Linked DNA regions of Homo sapiens. The protein of the gene in region 1 interacts with the protein of each later gene in a pairwise test. Each region holds a gene or a part of one and is shown in the gene's direction. Other genes may lie near its edges.

Region 1 (3,500 bases):
AGATATTTTATTTTATTTGTAGCAATTGTGAATAGAAGTTCACTCATGATTTAGCTCTCTACTTGTCTATTATTGGCATATAGGAATGCTTGTGATTTTTGCACATTGATTTTGTATCCTGAGACTTTGCTGAAGTTGCTTATTAGCTTAAGGAGTTTTGGGGCCGAGACATAGGGGTTTTCTAAATATGCAATTATGTTATCTGCAAACAGAGACAATTTGACTTCCTCAGTTCCTATTTGAATACCCTTTATTTCTTTCTATTGCCTGATTGCCCAGGCTAGAACTTCCAATACTATGTTGAATAGGAGTGGGGTGAGAGGGCATGCTTGTCTTTTTCCGGTTTTCAAAGGGAATGCTTCCAGCTTTTGCCCATTCAGTATGATATTGGCTATGGGTTTGTCATAAATAGCTCTTATTATTTTGAGATATGTTCCATCAATACCAAGTTTATTGAGAGTTTTTAGCATGAAGGAGTGTTGAACTTTATCAAAGGCCTTTTCTGCATCTATTGGGATAATCATGTGGTTTTTGTCACTGGTTCTGTTTATGTGATGGATTACATTTATTGATTTGTGTATGTTGAACCAGCCTGCATCCTGGGGCTGAAACTGACTTGATCATGGTGGATAAGCTTTTTGATGTGCTGCTGGATTTGGTTTGCCAGTATTTTATTGAGGGTTTTCACATTGATGTTCATCAGGGATAAAACTGGCTAGCCATATACAGAAAACAGAAACTGTACCCCTTCCTTACACCTTATACAAAAATTAGCTCAAGATGGACTAAAGACTTAAATGTAAAACCTAAAACCATAAAAACCTGAGAGGAAAACCTAGGCAATACCATTCAGGATATAGGCATGGGCAAAGACTTCATGACTAAAACACCAAAAGCAATGGCAACAAAAGTCAAAATTGACAAATGGCCTCTAATTAAACTAAAGAGCTTCTGCACAGCAAAAGAAACTATCATCCAAGTGAACAGGCAGCCTAGAGAATGGGAGAAAATTTTTGCAATCTATCCATCTGACAAAAGTCTAGTATCCAGAATCTAAAGGAACTTAGACAAATTACAAGAAAAAAAAAACCCATCAAAAAGTGGGCAAAGGATATGAACAGACGCTTCTCAGAAGAAGACATTTATGTGGCCAAAAAACATATGATAAAAAGCTCATCACCACTGTTAATTAGAACAATGCAAATCAAAACCACAATGAGATACCATCTCATGCCAGTTAGAGTGGTGATCAAAAAAGTCTGGAAACAACAGCTGCTAGTGAGGATGTGGAGAATAGGAACACTTTTACACTGTTGGTGGGAGTGTAAATTAGTTCAACCATTGTGGAAGACAATGTGGCAATTCTTCAAGGATCTAGAATCAGAAATACCATTTGACCCAGCAATCCCATTACTGGGTGTATACCCAAAGGTTTTTAAGTCATTTTACTGTAAAGACACATGCACACATATGTTTATTGCAGCACTATTTACAATAGCAAAGACTTGGAACCAATCCAAATCCCCATCAATGATAGACTGAATAAAGAAAGTATGGCACATATACACTGTGGAATACCATGCAGCCATAAAAAAGAATGAATTCATGTCCTTTGCAGGGACATGGATGAAGCTGGGAGCCATCATTCTCAGCAGACTAACACAGGAACAGAAAACCAAACACCGCATGTTCTCACTCATAAGTGGGAGTTGAACAATGAGAACACATGAACACAGGGAAGGGAACATCACACACCCAGGCCTGTTGGGGGATGGGGGATGGGGAGGGAGAGCAGTAGGACAAATACCTAATGCATGCAGGGCTTAAAACCTAGATGACAGGTTGATGGGTGCAGTAAACCACCAGGGCACATAGTATACCTATGTAACAAACTTGCACATTCTGCACATGTATCCCAGAACTTAAAGTAAAATAAAATAAAAAATTATTACTTTGTAGTAAACTGAAATATTTTTAATATATTTTGTAGGAAATTAAAATGTTGATGTAGATTTCAAATTTGCACACTAATTCAGATCAGTCTAGTAGTAATAGATGATATTTTAAAATACATGAACTCCAGTAATCATTATAAACTTCCTTTATTAAGAAAGGGACTCAAAAGGCTTCATGAAGATGAGGGCCCCATTTTCATTTCCAAGGGACAAACTAATCTTTGATATATGATATTTGAGTTCAGAATTGCTTTTGGCAAACATAATTGTTACTGCTTAAACAAGTAGTTCTTTTCTAGTAATTAGAATTTTTTTTTCATTTTAATGGGTAGTCATAAATATTAACCACCAGCAGTGCAGGAATAATTTAAATTGTCAGACATCACTCTGTGAACACGTGAAATAATTTACATTTATTTAGAACCTTTTATCCTAAAGTGCTCTACACATATTTCTTTATAATCTGATTGCAAGCTATAAATAGGGCTATCCCACCTGAAATAGGGCAGGAACCAAAGTAATTAAAGGTTACAACTTCACAAGAAGTAGGGAAAGATGGAAATGTAGTATTTTTTACATTATTTCTATGTGCTCTATGCCTGTAGGATTGGAGAATCCATGTTGACCAAATGCACCAGCACAGAAGTGGAATTGAATCTGCTCTAAAGGAGACCAAGGTATATGAATTACTTTACGTGAATCAATGTACATTTACTCATCTGTGGAACACCTGTTATAAGAGAACATGAAAGAATAAAAAGACACAATTTTTGCCTTTAAGGAACTTACTAATTGAATGTACCGTGTTACATTTCAACTGACCTTACATTTAAACCAACTAAAGAAAGCTAACTTACATATTAATAAAAGCTATATATATGTATATATATAAGATATATATGTATAATATATAGATAATACATATATTAGAGAGAAACATTTCATCATCCTTTCCTCTCTGAATCTTAAAGGAGGAAAGAACACCAGACCAGCAAGGTCTAGAACTTACAGCCTCCGCAGGCTTGCTGTCCTGCCAGAAACAAGGACTTTGGAGAATGTCACAAAGAAGCAAAGCTAGACTGAAAAGTTATGTGTCCCAGGCTAGAGCTATAGGCTTAGGGATCTATTTCCAACTGGAATATTTCAGTCACCTTTGAATCGTGCTATAGGAAACTCACGTTATTCCCTTACTTTGATTGTGAATGTTATATAATGCTAATTATAGTCACATAAATTTTATGGTATGTATAATGACAAATGAATTGACTAACACTGCCAGGTGCATTTTTATTCTAAAACTCTTCTAAGTGTGGTTAAAATATTTCTCATCACAGATATTTTGTGCTATTGAAAATTTCAAGCTGTCTTCTTTTGCACATGTAGTTGATTATTTGTAGAATGGATTGAGATGTAACCCATTTTTAATATTTTTGAAAAAATATGTTTGTGAGTTCTTCTATCTGCAAATTCCATGGAATTTCTAGGGATTTTTGGACAAACTCCATAATGAAATTACTAGGACTTTGGAAAAGATCAGCAGCCGAG
Region 2 (3,500 bases), on another chromosome or scaffold:
GGTGGTAATTTAGCCAGGAGGTGGAAGACATCTCTCAGCTCTGCCTCTTACTAGTTGTGTGATCTTGGCAAGTTACCCAACCTCTTTGTACCTCAGTTTTCTCATCTGTAAAATGGGGGAAATAATGGTATCTACTTCAGAAGGTTTTTTTGATGACTAAATTGAGTTGAGAAATTTAAATTGCTTAGAAGCATACTATTAAGAGAGTAGTATCCATTTTAAAAAATTAGGTGTTGGCCACTTTCAATTTAAGTGGATTGAGATGAGAACTAGATTAGAGATCTATCAGGGAGGGAACACTTCAGCCTTCTCAGTCTCAGTTGACTCAGAGTAAATGATCCAAGAAGTAGGAGATTATAGTAGGAGAGGATTACAAAAAGGGGCTGTGGAAGGTTGTATTTTTCAGGATGGTCACAAGATCTGCCATCCTACATTGTGATGTTTATGCCCCTCCCATAGGAAGTAGGTTCTGTGTTCACTTCTTGAATCTGTACAGGCCTATGACTATAGAAGTGATGCTATGTAGTGATTTGCAAGGTTAGGTAACCTCTTGGACTCTAGCAGCCATGCCAAGAGAAAGCCCATGCAGCCCTTTGAAAGAACCAAGGCCCTTTGCCCTTGGCTCTGGCTGAACTCCCAGCTAACAGTAAACACCAACTTGCCATCTTGGAAGACTATCTTCTAGCCAAGTTGAGCAGCCCCAGCTTATTTCATGTGGAGCAGAGACCAGGTTTCCCTGCTGAGCCCTCCTCCAATCAGATTTGTGAACAGTATGATTATTGTTATTTTAGGCCACTAACTATTTGAGTGGTTGTTAGGCAGCAATAGATAACTGTAACAGAGGCCGATCAATTTCTTACCTGCACCAAGATCTAATAGCCTTCTGCTGGTCTTAGTGGAGACAGTGGTAGAGGTAGAGGTTGATGCTTAAGAGTAATAGAGTTCCATTTAAGTATTTTATGCTTTGGAGTTCTCCAGTCCAAGCAACTTGGAAGTGAACTTTTGGAATAAGCAAGTCATTAAATTGAGGACAGTATTATAGACTGCACATGTGTGTAATTAATCTAAAATACTGAGTCCCTGGTGTTCCCAGGAAATTAGATAGTTGAGGTGTGTGTGTGCCCACATGTGTGAGAGAGATTTGAAAGAGTGATTGATTGCCTTGTTCTCTTAAAAGTGGATTGCAATTTCATGTAACACCGTGCAAATAAACATAACCTACAAATTAAACGAAAGTTCTAGTTGAGTGATAAATAATTTAAAAGTTTGATTGTCAATAGTTTATGTATATATATATTTTTAAAACTTAGCAAACTTTTCTGATGTTACTTCCTTGAAGCCGAAATTTGAAAATGAGAAAATATAGTTATTTACATATCTTTGCTTATTCAAGTTATAATAAACGAAAGAAGCAAATGATTCTTTCACTTGTTTAATTTCATTTCCAAGGTGTCTATTAAATGCCTGTAAGAATATTTAACGTGTGTATTTGGCAATACACTTAATTTGATTTGAAATGCTAATGGCAGATTTTATTAAATATTTAAAGTAATTTCACAGTCTATAAATGTTAAAGGCACTATAATAGAGTGGGAAAAATATCTGGGTTAGAATCCTGGTTTAGTACCTTGATAAGACTTAAATTTCATTTCCTCAGTTTCTTTATTTATAAAAATGAGATGAAAGAGCTGGGCTGTGATGATATTTAAAGAACATTCTTGCATTACGAATTTTAAATCTAATTATATGATTCTGCTGAGACTAGTGTAACAGGAATTGTAACATTTGTTACCTTTCCCTTTTGGACATAGACATAATATATATAACTTTACTGTTCGAAATGAGATATATTCTATCCTGGAAAAATATTTTGCTTAAGAGAATCTAAAATATTTTGTAAGATTCTAAACTACCATCGTTTAAATAGTCTTCAAAACAATTTTGATAACATGATTAATTGGCTAATTTCATAGTTTAAAGGGCTTCAAGATTGAATGTTAACATTGACTAATTTTAAAAAGTAAAATTATTTATTTTGTAGTGTTTGTGCAAGTAGTTTTCAAAATACTTTTTCAAAGTTTGCTTTAGTTATATTAGTGTCTTAATGAGCTTTATTTTTCTACCTTTTCATACTACCTTTGAAATCCATTTTGCTAGCCTGAGACAAAATATTTTGTGGTGCTTTTTTAAAAACTCAGTATTCAATAAATATAACTTATTTATTAATATACAGAAAACACGTAAAGAATCTCACTGAAAAATCAAAGAAAATGGGGTTAGAAAGTAGAGGCCGAATATTATAAAATTCTTTTAGTTCTTTGTAGTGCCAGAATTGTATTAGGCTCATATTTGGTTTCTGTTAGAATCTTTGATTGATAGTACCATGTAATGCCTGTTCTTTATTTCTGGGTTGTGGGGTGGTGGTCCTGCCTTTTTGGTTTTGGATGTATGGATCAAGAGCATGACTTTCAAGACCCTCTGCAGGGGTTTCAGCCATGGCCCCAACTAGCTAGTGTTTTGGTATGCTCGGCATTGTTCTGTTGACTACAGCTGGAAAGCAAGAGAAATGTATGACACAGCATCCCCTTGCTTTCAATTTAAGTATGGAGAAAAGAGTGAAACTTATGAAAATGATTCTAAATCAATAAATGACAAAATGACAATTAGTAATGTTCTGTGTTGGGATTTGAATTTTTAAGCTTCATAGGGGTTTAAGAGTGGAGAAATTAATGGAGACCATGTAAGGAAGGAACCCTTCAAAGAAGAAACGGGAATAGAGCCAGGCTTTGAATAATGGTATAGCAGTGTTTGAATTGTTGGAGGAGAAAGGCCATACTTGGTGGGGTGAGTTACCTGGCCACAGGTTAGGAAGCAGGAGTAGCATGGGCTTGAAAAGAAGACTGGAATAGTCTGACGGAAGTGTGGCTGTTTGTTTTGAGGTACAGAGAAATTTGGGTAGGTGGTACAAGATAAGAACCCTAAAGGGTAGATATAAGAGTGTGAACTTGGCTGCATGTGGTGACTCACACCTGTAATCCGAGCATTTCCAGAGACTGAGGCGGGCAGATCACTTGAGGCCAGCAGTTAGAGACTAGCCTGGCCAACATGGCAAAACCCCATCTCTACTAAAAATATAAAAATTAGCCGGATGTGATGGCGCACACTTGTAATACCAGCTACTCAGGAGGCTGAGACATGAGACTTGCTTGAACCCAGGAGGCGGAGCCGAGATTGTACCACTGCATTGCAGACTGGGTGACAGAGTGAGACTGTATCTCAAAAAAAAAAAAAGAAAAGTGTGTGTGAATTTGATAGTGTAGTAGGAATTATATAGGGAAGTTTCTCACTAAAAGGAGGTAGTGTTTTAATGATTTGTTAGACAGTGGTATCCATAATAAATTTAAGGAAAATACATGATAGGCAGTACTTTTGAACCGATGGGTTAGTTGGTTTAACAAGATACAGAAATATCTCTCTGAAACGATCTGAGACTTACTTTA

What was found.
Region 2: the proteins of IFT57 (region 1) and EXOC5 interact in binary tests that used the Homo sapiens proteins (3 or more experiments, as listed by UniProt).

The regions. Positions count from the first base shown.
Region 1 is NC_000003.12:108,166,925-108,170,424, reverse strand, and holds part of IFT57 (intraflagellar transport protein 57 homolog), read left to right. Parts: intron 1-2,560; coding exon 2,561-2,632; intron 2,633-3,439; coding exon 3,440-3,500. UniProt on the Homo sapiens protein: Required for the formation of cilia. Plays an indirect role in sonic hedgehog signaling, cilia being required for all activity of the hedgehog pathway.
Region 2 is NC_000014.9:57,258,906-57,262,405, reverse strand, and holds part of EXOC5 (exocyst complex component 5), read left to right. Parts: intron 1-3,500. UniProt on the Homo sapiens protein: Component of the exocyst complex involved in the docking of exocytic vesicles with fusion sites on the plasma membrane.